2 separate regions of the Homo sapiens genome follow, and region 2 is linked to region 1. Evidence: fine-mapped expression QTL. Tissue or cell type: whole blood. Region 1 holds a variant in brackets; the other region holds the start of a gene. All regions are shown on one strand. Distances are between the middles of the regions.

What was found. PIP is the estimated chance that this variant, and not a neighbour inherited with it, causes the effect.
Region 2: SCAMP4 starts here. The variant in region 1 is fine-mapped to the expression of SCAMP4 in whole blood (TOPMed, PIP 0.95).

What each region holds. Positions count from the first base shown.
Region 1 is chr19:1,952,682-1,959,791 of GRCh38, reverse strand. The region is part of intron 1 of CSNK1G2 (casein kinase 1 gamma 2); the gene reads right to left. CSNK1G2-AS1 (CSNK1G2 antisense RNA 1) reads left to right here and starts at 5,243. Exons shown (of 3, transcript NR_033400.1): 1 at 5,243-5,949; 2 at 6,286-6,406; 3 at 6,781-7,110. RefSeq lists an enhancer at 3,911-4,862. The variant C/G (reference allele first, on the strand shown) is at 3,860.
Region 2 is chr19:1,901,518-1,908,627 of GRCh38, reverse strand. SCAMP4 (secretory carrier membrane protein 4) reads right to left here and starts at 3,229. Exons shown (of 7, transcript NM_079834.4): 1 at 3,189-3,229. It overlaps ADAT3 (adenosine deaminase tRNA specific 3), which reads right to left and starts at 3,229. Exons shown (of 2, transcript NM_138422.4): 1 at 3,189-3,229. RefSeq lists enhancers at 1-650, 2,726-2,815, 3,836-3,895, 4,176-4,235 and silencers at 2,976-3,125, 3,176-3,505.

The DNA of each region.
Region 1 (7,110 bases):
GTGGCACTAAAGGTGGGACGGGTGCTGGGGGACCCACGGTGGCACTAAAGGTGGCACAGGTGCTGGAGGACTCAGGGTGGCACTAAAGGTGGGACGGGTGCTGGGGGACCCACGGTGGCACTAAAGGTGGGGCGGGTGCTGGGGGACCCACGGTGGCACTAAAGGTGGCACGGGTGCTGGGGGACTCAGGGTGGCACTAAAGGTGGGACGGGTGCTGGGGGACCCACGGTGGCACTAAAGGTGGCACAGGTGCTGGGGGACTCAGGGTGGTACTAAAGGTGGGGCGGGTGCTGGGGGCCGAGCATTAAAGGTGGGGCGGGTGCTGGGGGCTCAGCCGCAGCCTGTAGGGTCTGTGCTACCCTGCGCAGGCAGGTGTCCGGGCAGGTAAGACACCCCGATGCCACGTCAGGAAAAAGACATCACACCCACCCTCTCTGTGAGCCCCAGAGCTCCAGCCCTTTCCCAGACAAGGGAGTGGGGACACTCACAGGCCACTGAGAGGGAGCTGCCAAAACCCTCGTTGAGGACAAGAGACTGGAGGCCACCAACCAAACCTGAAAAGCAAACGTCACCGACTTCACGAGGAAAACAAATCCATCCCTTCTCGCCATGAGGATGAAAATATCCTCTATTAGATGGCACAGACAGAGACACAGCCTCATGATGAGCTAAAGGCACTGAGCTGCATGAGTTACACAGCTAGCGGGTACAGCCCGAGTGTCACACCTCAGTTATTAATACAAAAACCAACTCGCACCCTGGGAGCAGATGGAGATGCAGACTGGGAAGCCACATGGGGAATTTGGGGAAGGGACGCTCAGGACCCAGAGCCAAAGCTCATACCCACACTCAATACCGGCTGCTGTGGCCCTGGACGGGGGTGGGGGGGACGGGGGGAGGGGGGACAGTGCCTGGACGGGGGATGGGGGACGGGGGGAGAGTGCCTGGACGGGGTAACGGAGGACAGTGCCTGGGAGAGCTGGGCTGCTGCGGCCCTGGATGGGGGGACAGGGGGACGGGGGACAGTGCCTGGGAGAGCTGAGCTGCTGCGGCCCTGGATGGGGGGACGAGGGGAGGGGGGACAGTGCCTGAGAGAGCTGAGCTGCTGCAGCCCTGGATGGGGGGACGAGGGGACGGGGGACAGTGCCTAGGAGAGCTGAGCTGCTGCGGCCCTGGACGGGGGGACGGGGGGACAGGGGGACGGGGGACAGTACCTGGGAGAGCTGAGCTGCTGCAGCCCTGGACGGGGGGACGGAGGGACAGGGGACAGTGCCTGGGAGAGCTGAGCTGCTGCGGCCCTGGACGGGGGGATGGGGAGATGGGGGGGACAGGGGAGATGGGGGGACAGGGGACAGTGCCTGGGAGAGCTGAGGCCCTCTAGACACCTAGCAGGAGCCGGGCAGCTCTCCTGCCCTGGTGCACCAACCCCACGGCCCCCACTGCTGAGCCCTGCAAGACGGCCCTGCCGGGCTCCTGTTCCCCTAACATACACACTCGCTGCCCAAAAAGGACGAAGCGAGGCCCAGCGGCCTCTGGGAACCACCGAGAAGGAAGCCGTGCTCTGGACAGACATCAGGGGCACAGGCTTTGGTGGGGGCAGTGGGAGTCCCAATCGCCCCTCAATTCCAGGCAGAGCAGGCAGGTGCCCCATGAGGCTGCGCTGTGCTTCCAACGCCTCCAGACCTGCTCGGGAGGGGCCCCTTACTCAGCCACCGATGTCCCTCAGGTGTCCCATTAGGATGTGGGCAGTGCCGTCGTCAGGACGCGTCCCAACACCCGGCTTCCGGACAAGACAAGCGCACACCTCCAACCCCTCCCTGCACACGGGGGAAGCACGTGGTGACATGAGGCTGGCTCTGCCGTGTGCCCCGCAGCTCCAGGGGGCCCTAAGCAGTGGCCGTGCCACACACACAGTGCCCGCCGAGCGCCCACCCCACATAAACGGCGCCCGCCTAGCTCCCACCCCACAAACACGGCGCCCGCCGAGCACATACCCCCCACACACGGCACCCACCGAGCACACACCCCAGTGTTTCCAGGGGAGATCTGGCAGCTGCTCAAATGCCGCCAGACGCCCTCAGAGGCCCCTCTGTGCCCACGTCTGCAGTCACCCGGGGTCCTGCGCACCCTCCAGTCTCTGCCTGTGTGGTGAGCTGTGAAAGTGGCCTAGCCTGTGGAGCGCGCCCCGGGCGAGGGGACATGGGGGACCTGCAGGGGCAAAGGCATCTGCTCGGCTCCCTCAGTGAGGACAAACATGAAGTGGAGAGAGAGGTGCCTGCGCTCACTGTCCCTCCTAACAGCAAACCCAAGGTCTCCCACAGGCCCGGCCACCCAAGCCGCTCGGGGCAGCCCCCTTCTCTCCCAGGCTGCTCTCTGCTCAGCACTTGGTTTGCACGAGCGCCTGGTGCATCCCGGGACATCTCTCCCCCGGCTCCACTTTCGTCTGTGGTGCCCACGTGACCTCCCGGGCACACACTGCTTCTCATCCTTGCGGGCCTCCAGGCTGGGCAAGGCACCCTCCTGGGCACAGGGCCACTGGCCTGCTCTCCGTGTAGGCTATCCCTCCTGACACGGTGGCCCTCGGGCCTGTGGGGCTGCCTGGAGGGAGGTGGGGCCTGCGTCCAGGTTGCTTTTCTTTCTAGCCGCCCCTGCCTTGCCCTCTCCACAGCCGGGGACCCCAGAGGCCCAATCCCGCCCACCAATCTCCGGGTGGCACCGTTTAAGCCACGCAGCATCAGGGCACGACCGTCGAAGGGGGGCGCCACCACCAGCCTTCCCTCTGCAGAATCCCCTCCTCCTCCCTCCTTCTCTCTTCCAGGTGAGCCATTGGCTTGGTCAGTTCCTTCTGCTGAGAAACCCTGAGTGATGTGTGATTAACTGAATTAACCCATCAACCGCCGCCTGGCCAGGTTCATCGAGGCTGAGCCCTAAATTCCGGAACGAGCCTCCTGGGGCTCTCTGGGGTGTCCTCCTGGCCCGGAGACAGAAGCTTCTGGACGGCTGTCTCACAGCCCCCACGGATGTGGGTATGACCCACGGCCCCGTGTCCCGATGCTGGAGTCTGTAACCGCCACCTCCTTAAACACTCTCCCATCCCCAACACTCAGTCTACCCAGATGGGACTGGACACACCCCACCCAGCCCCTCTGTGGAGGGTCAACACCAACCACTGAAAGGGCCAATGCCGCAGGGTAAGCGCCTGTGCCACAGCCACAGCTGCCGGGTCTGAGTACAGAGTGGCCTTGCCGGCTAGGATGCGTGGTCTTTTGTTTTTTGAGACAGGATCTAGCTCCATCACCCAGGCTGGAGTGCAGTGGCAGGATCTCGGCTCATTACAACCTCCGCCTCCCGAGTTCAAGCAATTTTCCCGCCTCATCCTCCCAGGTAGCTGGGACCACAGGCATGAGGCACCATGCCGTCTGATCTTGGCTCAGCTACATGCGTTCTGGCTTTTGCAGAACAAAAAGCACCAAATCCCCATCCCAGCTGCACCTGCACAGATGACAAGCCCCAACCCCCAGAACCTGTGACGTGAGCGCTGCCCTGCTGGGTCTACCCACTGCTGGGTCTAGGGCCCCACTGCTCCTGGCATCCCCCTGGAAGCCTCCTTGTGCGACCCCCGGCCCCTCGTCTGGGTGGTGACCATCACCTCTCAGGTCCTGGCTCCCGCAGGGCCTCTCGGCACCCCTGCCCCATGACCTGGAGGCAGGAGGATGAGAAAGGGGCAGGCCCTGCACTCAGGGACCCAACGCTGTCGGGAGCTGGGGTGAAGGCCAGCCCGGGCTGTGTGCCGACCCTGCTCCGCCCGGCCAACGAGCAGGCTGCCCCGCTGGCGTCTGTTCTGATACAGTGGTCTTGG[C/G]TGTTGTGGCCCAGGCAGGTTGGGGTTGCTACTTTCTCTCTGGCCCCCTGGATGAGCACTGGCCTCCCTGTGCCCGGCCTCAGGGCCGGCCGGGAGCAAACCCCACTGTGCCCTGCAGAGCTGAGCCACACAGATGCACACCCGGCTTTGCAGATGGAGCCCGGAGCCGAGCAGCAGCCTCCTCCGGTGACAGCAGTGGCACGGGGGTCCGCTGAGCACTCCCTGCACCCTCAGGGCTGGATCCCGCCTCCAAGCATCTCACGACAGCCCCTCTGAGGGGGTCGTGGGCGGACAGCAGAGGGAGGGCCCAGCCACACCCACCCTAAGCCTGACATGGACGGAGAAGCCCCTGACCTGGGCGCTGCCCCCGACTCGCGGAGCCTCGCCCAGGCACACGCCCACCCCGCGGAGCCTCACCCTGGCACACGCCCACCCCGCGGAGCCTCGCCTCAGCCTGAGCCTCAGTGGGGGGCGCTGACCCACAGCCGGTGAAGGGCAGCCCAGTGGAAAACGGGAGCACTGCTTGCACACCTGCCGCCCACGGTGGCCGCTAGCCCACATCCCCCACCTCAGGAGTGGCCCCGAGAGTCACCGCCTGCGCCTGAGGCCCTCGCAGCAGCAGCAGCAGCAGCAGGAGGGCAGTCAGAGGACAGGCAGGGCCGCCACCCTGGGCTGTGTTCCGTGGGCACAGGGCGGGTGCCCAGCTCCCCCTGCCCCCACAAACAAGAGCCGCCACTCCAAGACTCAGCAGCTTCCGAGGGCGCAGATCACTCCCTGGAGGCGGTCACCACTCGGTCAGGGCCCAGCACCCGTCCATCACCAAGGAGGAAGAGCCCGGCCTCTTCTGGGGCTCTCCGAACCCCAGGGGGTGCCCAAGGGAAGCCAGACAAGGCCGGGGCCTGGAAGGAAGCGAGGACGTAAAGGCTGGGCACCCACAGTGCCCACGCAGGCCTGGGGGTTGGGGGCCTGCCCTGTTGCCTGAGGGCCACAGCGAAAAGCAACAACCCCAGGGAGGGACGAAGGGACGCTGATCCTCACCCAGCCTCCACCCAACCCACGCAGCCACGATTCCGTCCCAGGGGGCGAGTGCCGGCTCCGGGTCACACGCCAAGGATGGCTCCCGGGCGCCAACGAGGGGATTGCAGCCATCCCACAAGGGGCTGCTCTCTCCCCGTCAGCTCCCATCCCCTTCCCCAGCCCTAGCCTCAGGCTGCTACCTGCCCTGTTCTTTTCGGGGTCCTCCATCTGGTCTGGGCCCAGGGCCAGTTCCCTGGGGAGGGCCCCGGGAGCCCCCTTCTCTGACTGTCTCCACTGAGTGATGTCACAGTCCCTGGGCTGACATCACCACACAGCCCTCAGCCCAGAGCCCAGGGCAAAGCTGAAGGGAGGCCAGGGACCTCACTGGGCTGGGCAGGTGCAGGCCACCGCCGTCCCAGTGCCCTCAGAGGCACCTAGACTCATGTGGACCCGGCCGCAGACCGTTCTGGGCAGCTCTGTCCAGGCCGGCCCTGCCCTCTGACCTGGGGCCGCAGGGGCTGGCCACTGTGGGCTCGGTTCCCTGCCACCCCAATTCATCTGCACCCCAAGGAAAGAAAATGAGGGGTTGCAGCGCCCCAGGACCCAAGAGCCCCCGAACACCAGGGCAGCACATACTTCCAGTGCCAGGGCCACAGCAGAGCGGGGCCAGGCCCAGCCCAGTGACGCAGGGCAGACGGAAGGGCGCCCTCCACAATGGAGGGGCGCAGGAGCTGCCGCGGCCAGGACAAACCAACCTCAGGCTGACCTAGGCCGGTAATGGGTTTAACGCATCAGGTGCAAAAGAGAAACACCCCACAAATCAGGGAGAGGAGGGAAGCCGCCCACCCCATGGGAGGAAGCTGAGGAGTGAACGCCAGGGATGGGCAGGGCCGGTCCTCGGAGCACTGCAGACACCAGACCAAGGGCGACTGTCATCACCACGAGAAGGCCCCGTCCATGGCAGAAGCCAACCTCACCGCGCCGACTGCACCGGAGACGCCCACGAGGACAGCCGGCCTCTGAGAACGCAGCTGAGCCGTCACAGGTCGCCATCAGCAAAGGCAAGAGTCCAGGTAAAGAACACAGGAGGGCCACAGGTGATCGCGGTACAGCGGCCAGGACCGGACCCTGATGCGGGGGGAGGGGGCAAGGCTGCACAATGGCAGCTGGGACCAGACCCTGTTGGGGGGATGTGGGGGACGGCGAGGCTGTGCAGGGACCCCGTCCCACAGGTCAGCCTCGCCCTGGTGATGGCACAGACCACAGGTGAGGGCCACGGGCAGAGCTGACCAGGGAAAAGCTGGCACTCACCCAGCACCGGACACATAAGGCAAACACCACCGGCAGCCTTGGCGGAGGGCACTGTCCCTGCAACTAGTCCACATAGGGGCAATTTTCCCAAAATTCAGATTATGCAAACGGAGGCAAGGCTGCCATGGACTCCAGAGCCTCAGACGCCATCAACAAAAGCAAAGTGGACACATCTGCATCAAATCCATCACAAAGACGGCCTTCCAGACTCCGGGGGAAGTGAGAACACCCCCACCCAGGCCCCCATGGCGCACAGGCCCCCACAGCAACCCTGCGCCACCTCAGCAGCCTCAGCTCTGCTTCCTGCTCCGTGGCCCGGGGGCAGAGCTGACCTGGTCTTGCCAGGGGGGCAGGGGTCCCCGGTCCCAAGTGGTGCCACAGACAGCGGGGGGAACGTGCAGGCAGAGTCAGGCACCCCACCAGGAAAGAAAGCTCCCACGGCAGGTCCCGGGGGCGAGTGGGACCCGGGGTGGCTCCCATCGGAATCCTGCTACATCTGAGAGGACACGGGTCCTTCCAGAAGCGTAACCATGAACGGCCGTGGAAAACCTGGGTGGGCTGCGTTTCTACATTTCCTTTGTTTTTTTTTTCAGACGGAGTCTCGCTCTGCCACCCAGACTGGAGTGCCTTTTCCCCTCATCGTGTGGGAGCCGCCGGGCGACATCCCGCCCCGGTTTCCCTCCACTCGAAGGCAGTCACCTCGGTTGCCAGCTCCTGCCTCTGTGATGATCCCCACGAGGGCTGCAGAGTGAAGGGCACAGCAGGGTTCGGCCTAACTCCCCGGGGAGCCCTAGGCGAGAGGGCTTGGTCCTGGGGAGCTGCCCAGGTCTTCTATATCCCCTGGCCTCCATCCAGTCCCGCACGACTCAGCTCCTGGCCCTGTGCACCGGGCGACGCCTGCTAGGCGCATGACCCTCAGAGTC
Region 2 (7,110 bases), 51 kb after region 1:
TCACAGTTATTTCTAGCAGACAGTACTGCCTCAGATGGTGCTGGGGCTAAGCCGCAGATGATCTTAAAATGACTCCAGCCGGGTGATCCTGAACTGCCAGCCTGGACTACACATCCCCGCTGGTATGGACGGCTCCTCCCGCAGACAGGGATGTGTCTCTGGATCATTTCGCAGCCGCGCAGCTGTGGGTGCTACTCCTCGACATGCACTGCCTGGTCCACGCCTCAGCCGCCGGGGCGCCCCACAGATGGGGGACCAGCAGCCAGTGGAACTCCAGGCCAGTGGCCTTGGAGGTCACGCTGAAGCGGCCCCAGCGCTGCCCGAAGCTCACGCGTTCAACAAAGCACAGAACCGGAGATGCAGTGGGAGCCGGGAGCAGGAAGCGCGGAGGCAGCGCCAGGTGCTGCCGCTGCCCGAGGCCCCGTGCCAGGTGGGGCCCATAGCAGCCGACTCGCTGGGCCCTCCCAAAACGCACACCACGCGCGACCAGGACCGAGAGGCCCGCACGGCCCTGCTAGGCCACAAACACTCCACTGTCTCCAGGGTAAAAGACAAACACAGCCTCGCTTGTCCCTCCAAGAGTACAACCTCTGTCTGATGAAAAACAAACGACCCAGAGAGGAGGCAGCTGCCGGGACACTGCAGGCTGGGCCCGCCGCGCCCTTGGAGGGCAGGTCAAAATCCCGGAACAGGCACAGTGTTCAGGCTGATTGACTGTCCCAGGCCAGGGCGGCCTCAACTGCCAGAGCACCTCCTACCTACCTGCTATGGCCCGGGGGGACGACTCACTCCCACAGCGACTGCCCCCCAACAGCAGGGGGCCACCTGACCCTCCCTCTACCACACCCACCCAGAAGGCAGGCGACCGACCACTGGGACCCCTCAGGAGGGCAGGCAGCCCAGGTCCCAGGTCCCAGCAGAACACGGCCGCCAGCCTGGGCTGGGAACCGGCATAGCTCCAGGCAGGTGAGTCAGACCCTGCGTGGTGACAACCCTGGTGAACAGGAGGCTGGGAGGCCTTTATCTAAGCCCACAGATGAGGAGGCCAAGGTCCGCGCCGGGACCTGGGTATGTCCACCCAGAAAACACACCCAGTCCCCAACCTGCCCTAGAGGCGTTCAGCCCAGCGCGGTCAATTCCTGACTGCGAGAACTCAGGCACCAGTCCTGACTCCTCCAAGCCTCGGCTTCCACCCCTGTGAAATGGGAATTCCTGCTCTACCTTTTTTTTTTTTTTAAGGCAGGGCTGTCAGGTACATAAGAGAAAATGGGGGGATGGAGGGGCCTGACCATCTTCAGCAGAATCCAGGAGGGCTCCTCGGAGGCAGTGACCCACAGCCCAGCCTGGAAGGCTGGGGAAGTAGGGGAGAGAACTCGGAGAGGGAACAGCTAATGCTCAGTTCCAGGGCACACCAATAGTCTGCGTGGGGGCTTTTTTTTTTTTGGGACAGTCTCACTCTGTCCCCCAGGCTGGAGGGCAGTGGCGCGATCCTGGCTCACTGCAACCTCTGCCTCCCTGGTTCAAGCAATTCTCCTGCCTTAGCCTCCCAAGCAGCTGGGACAACAGATGTGCACCACTATGCCTGGCTAATTTTTTATATTTTTAGTAGAGGTGGGATTTCACCATATTGGTCAGGCTGCTCTCGAACTCCTGACCTTGTGATATACCTGCCTAGGCCCCCCAAAGTGCTGGGATTACAGGCGTGAGCCACTGCGCCCAGCCTGGGGCTTGTTTCTTTACACACACACACACACACACACAATTTTTTTTTTTTTTTGAGACGGAGTCTCACTCTGTCGCCCAGGCTGGAGTGCAGTGGCACGATCCTGGCTCACTGCAAGCTCTGCCTCCTGAGTTCACACCATTTTCCTGCCTCAGCCTCCTTTGGGAGTAGCCGGGACCACAGGCGTCCACCACCATGCCTGGCTTTTTTTTATTTTTAGTAGAGACAGGGTTTCACCGTGTTAGCCAGGATGGTCTTGATCTCCTGATCTCGTGATCCACCCGCCTTGGCCTCCCAAAGTGCTAGGATTACAGGCGTGAGCCACCACGGCCGGCGCTACACGTATGTATTTTATTTATTTATTTAGAGACAGGGTCTCGCTCTGTTGCCCAGGCTGGAATGCAGTAGTGCCATCACAGTTCACTGCAGCCTCAACCTCCGGGGCTCAAGCAATCCTCCTGCCTCAGCCTCCCAAGTAGCTGGGACCACAGACATGTGTCACCATGCCTGGCTTATTAAAAAAAAATCTTTTTTTCTTTTTTTTGGAGAGTGAGTCTTGCTAGCTTGCTCAGCCTGGAGTACAATGGTGCCATCTTGGCTCACTGCAACCTCCACCTCCCAAGTCCAAGCGATTCTCCTGCCTTGGCCTCCCCAGTAGCTGGTTTTACAGGCGCGTGACACCACGCCCAGCTAATTTTTGTATTTTTGGCAGAGATGGAGTTTCACCATGTTAGACAGGCTGGTCTCGAACTCCGGACCTCAGGTGATCCACTCGCCTTGGCCTCCCAAAGTGCTGGGGTTATAGGGTGAGGAACTGCACCCAGCCGTCCTTGTTTCCACGGAGTCGATCCTCTGTTTCTGGCCACCCTACAAGGAGGCCTTCTCTGCAAGACAGCGGGGAACCTCGGTCCTCGGGGTAGTGTGTGGGAGATAACTGGGGGCCTGTGATACAAAAACCTGAAAAACTCATACTCTAGGTAACGATGAGGAACGATGGTCAATTCTGGGGATGTACCAAGGCCTAGGGGAATCTCCACATAAAGGCGAATCAGAGCTGGGGAGGAAGGACGCGAAGGCTACGGAAACTCGCGAGAGCGCGGTTCAGAGGCAGGGGACTGCGGGACATGACCTGAGGAAGGGCCACCGGAAGCAGCTGGAGGATACGGGGTCTCCCGCACCGACCATAAGGGCGCACACGCGCAGAAAGGCGCTAGGCCCGGGGGAGCGCGGTCCTGAGGCTTCCCCCAGGCCAGCGCCGCGCGCGCGCGCGCACGCGCATTCGCGCCGCCTCCCCGCGTCGCCCACCGGCCCGCCCGAGACGCGCGCGAGGCTGGCCTGGGCCCCCCGTTTTCTCCCCACAAACGGCCGGCGCCCCTCACCGCCGAGACCCCCCATGTCAGCCCCTACTCCCCCTCTGGGGAAGTCTGAGCCTGGAGAACCCGAGACCTCGGGGCCGCGCGCTTACCTGAGGGATCCGGGCGCGAGCGCAGCGCTTCGCCAAGTCTTAGCAACCGGCCCGGCCCAACCCACCTCACCCCGCCTCGTCTCCGCCTGGAGCCGCGGAGCACGACGGGAGCGTAGTTCCAGGGGCGGGATCTTCGCCAGGCCAAGGTGGGGCAAGGACTACAATTGCTAGTAGGCACTGCGCGCCGCCGCCTCGCCCCGCCCCGCTCCGGCACTGCGCTCACATGACCTCCGGGCGGCGGGAGGGGAGGAGAGGCGGGGCCGCTGCGCTGGGCGAGCGCTGAGTTTGCAGGTTCGAATCCCATCAAGCGGCCAGGGAAAACTCGGAACCCGGGGGATCTTTGGAAGGTTAGCAGAGTGGGAAGGATGAGGCAGAGGGGGTATATGACACCCGTCCCCTGAGTCCGGGATGGGGCCAGGTTCCAGTTCTGCCTGTTACTGCACTCCGGCGTGGGCCGCCCTCAGGTTTGAGTTTTCTCACCAGTAACGTAGGTGAAGAAGACCTCTTGCCTCTCCTGGGCCAAACAAGCACATTTTTTTTTTTTTTTTTGAGACGTAGCCTCAGTCTGTCACCCAGGCTGGAGTGCAGTGCTAGGCTCACTGCAACCTCCACCTCCTGGGTTCAAGCGATTTCTGGCTAGTTTTTGTACTTTTAGTAGAGAAGGGGTTTCACCAAAACATGCATATTTTATGAGCAATTTGTTACTCCTTCCAGTTGGACAGGTTTAACCAAGTGGTTCTCAACGGGAGGGAATTTGTCATCCCCTCCCCCAACAGCTTGACAGTGCCTGGCTGTAACCAGCTCAGGCTCCGATGCCAGAGTCTTGACAAACCAGTAAGGAGGAAAAAGTGCAGTGAAAGGAAGGTGACTTCCTTTCAGAGTTCGCAGCAGGGAGGCAGCTGGTTTAGGCCTCCAGAAACCCCTTCAAACTTGAGGCTGGGGTGAGGGGCTAAAAAAGGGGAACTGGGAATGGTGGGTGTGCAGGGGAGGTGCTGATTATAAGCTCTGTGTGTTCATGAATTTTGGTGGCTTAAAAGCGCAGGCTGGCCTCATCCTAATAAGGGCCGGGTTGCAGACCACCTTGAGGAAATCTCTGGGATTTTGCAGGTGGGTCTCCGTGCTTGGCCTGTCTCCAGATTAGCTCTAAAACGTTCTTTCTTTTTTCTTTTTTTTCGAGACAGTCTCGCTCTTGTCACCGAGGCTGGAGTGCAGCAGCACGATCTCAGCTCACCGCAACCTCCACCTCCCAGATTCAAGTGATTCTCCTGCCTCAGCCTCCCGAGTAGCTGGGATTACAGGCACACGCCACCACACCTGGCTAATTTTGTATTTTTAATAGAGATGGGGTTTCTCCATGTTGGTCAGGCTGGTCTCAAACTCCTGACTTCAGGTGATCTGCCCGCCTCGGCCTCCCAAAGTGCTGAGATTACAGGCGTGAGCCACCGTGCCCAGCCTGTTCCTGGAACTTTTAGGTAATCACATAATTAGATGCATACAGTTAGGTAAACCTGCAGAGTGTGAGGGAGTTTATGGTGAGAAAGGGGAGGACGTGTTTCAAAGAAAGTGCATTTCAAGGTCGGATGCGGTGGCTCATGCCTGTACTCCCAGCACTTTGAGAGGCCAAGGTGGGTGGATCACCTGAGGTCAGGGGTTCGAGACCAGCCTGGCCAACATGGCGAAACCCCATCTCCACTAAAAATACAAAAATTAGCCAGGCATGGTGGCAGGGGCCTTTAATCCCAGCTGCTGGGAAGGCTGAGGCAGGAGAATCACTTGAACCCGGGAGACGAAGGTTGCGATGAGCTGAGATCGCACCATTGCACTCTGTTGCCTGGGCGACAGAGTGAGACTCCATCTCAAAAAAAAAAAAAAAAAAAAAAAAAAAAAAAAACAGCATTCCAGGAAACTATTTCGCTCTCAGTTGCTTTCTTTTTTCCTTTTCTGAATAAAAACTCAGACTGCTGTGAGTTTCACTTTTTCTTTTTTTAGCTTAAATACACATCTCTCCATCCCTGGATGCCTCATGCAAACTAGCCAAGAGCCCCTGTTTTGCTGATTTGTTTTAAAAAAAAAAAAGACAGCCTTTATTTGGTAAGTCATTAAATCCAAAGCCCAGATTCTCTGCATCTAAAAAAATGAATCTAGGCCAGGCATGGTGGCTCGTGCCTGTAATTCCAGCACTTTGGGAGGCTGACACATGAGGTTTGCCTGAGGCCAGGAGTTTGAGACATGCTGCCATCTCTGCAAAAAAAAAAAAAAAAAGAATTGCTGGGTCCGGAGGGGCACTGAGTAAGTGGGACAGCTGGGACAGCTACTCAGGAGGCCGAGGTGGGAGGATCACTGGAGTCCAGAAGGTCAAGGCTGAAGTGAGCTATGATTGCGCCACTGCGCTCCAGCTGGCTAATTTTTGTATTTTTTAGTACACCATGTTGGCCAGGCTGGTCTCAAACTCCTGACCTCTGGTGATCTACCTGCCTCAGCCTCCCAAAATGCTGGGATAGTGCGAGCCACCATGCCTGGCCTTCTTTCGGGTTTTTGTTTTGCTTTGGGCTTTAAGCTAGTTTCAGTCATGATTTCAGCCTCTACTGATGGGACCCCTTTTTTAATTGACATTGTTCTTTATCCAGAACTTTTCTTTTTCTTTCTTTTTTTTTTTTTTTTTTTTTTGAGAAGGAGTCTCACTCTGTCGCCCAGGCTGGAGTGCAGTGGCGCGATCTCAGCTCACTGCAAGCTCCACCTCCCTGCAAGCTCCACCTCCCGGATTCACGCCATTCTCCTGCCTCAGCCTCCCGAGTAGCTGGGACTACAGGCGCCCACCACCACGCCCCGCAAATTTTTTTGTATTTTTAGTAGAGACGGGGGTTTCACCATGTTCGCCAGGATGGTCTCGATCTGTTGACCTCGTGATCCGCCCGCCTCGGCCTCCCAAAGTGCTGGGATTACAGGCATGAGCCACCGCGCCCGGCCTTTATCCAGAACTTTTCAAAAGTAATGTGGCCCACAGCCGGTGTGCTGGCTCACACCTGTAATCCCAGTGTAATCCCAGGACTTTGGGAGGCCGAGGCGGAGGGATTGCTTGAGTCTAGGAATTTTGAAATTGCCCTGGGCAACACAGCGAGACCTTGTCTCTTTCTTTAAAAAAAAAAAAACAACATAGCTGGGAATGGTGGCGCCTGTAGTCTCAGCTACATGCCGGGAGGCTGCGGCAGAAGGATGGCTTGAGCCCAGGAGGCAGAGGTTGCAGTGAGCTGAGATCACACCAATGCCACTTCACTCCAGCCTGGGTGACAGCCAGACCGTCTCAAAAAACAAACGGAACGTGACCCTCCCGACTCACAGTAATGCGTCAGGGTCCGGCATCGAAATGTTGCAAAATCATGGAGTCGGTTCCCCAATTGTGAGCTTAGTGGCCGCAGAGAATCAGCCAGAAGCCTAAGTCAGACACTGGCGGGCTGGGTGGCCCCAAGTGACAGGCAGTCAAGAAATGACCAGGACCAAGCTCGGGGGCTCACGCCTGTAATCCCAGCACTTTGAGAGTCCAAGGTGGAAGGATCGCTTGAGCCCAGGAGTTTGAGACCAGCCTGGGCAACATAGTGAGACCTTGTCTCTACACAAAAATTTTAAATTACCCAGGTGTGGTGTGTGCCTGTGGTCCCAGCTACTTGGGAGGCTGAGGTGGCAGGATCACTTGAACCCAAGAGGTCAAGACTGCAGTGGGCTTTGATCAGCATTACTGCACTCCAGCCTGGGCAACAGAGGGAGATCCTGTCTTTAAAAAAATAGGCCTGGGCGGGGCACGGTGGCTCACGCCTGTAATCCCAGCACTTTGGGAGGCCAAGGTGGGCGGATCACGAGGTCAGGAGATCGAGACCATCCTGGCTAACATGGTGAAACCCCGTCTCTACTAAAAATAAAAAAGCCA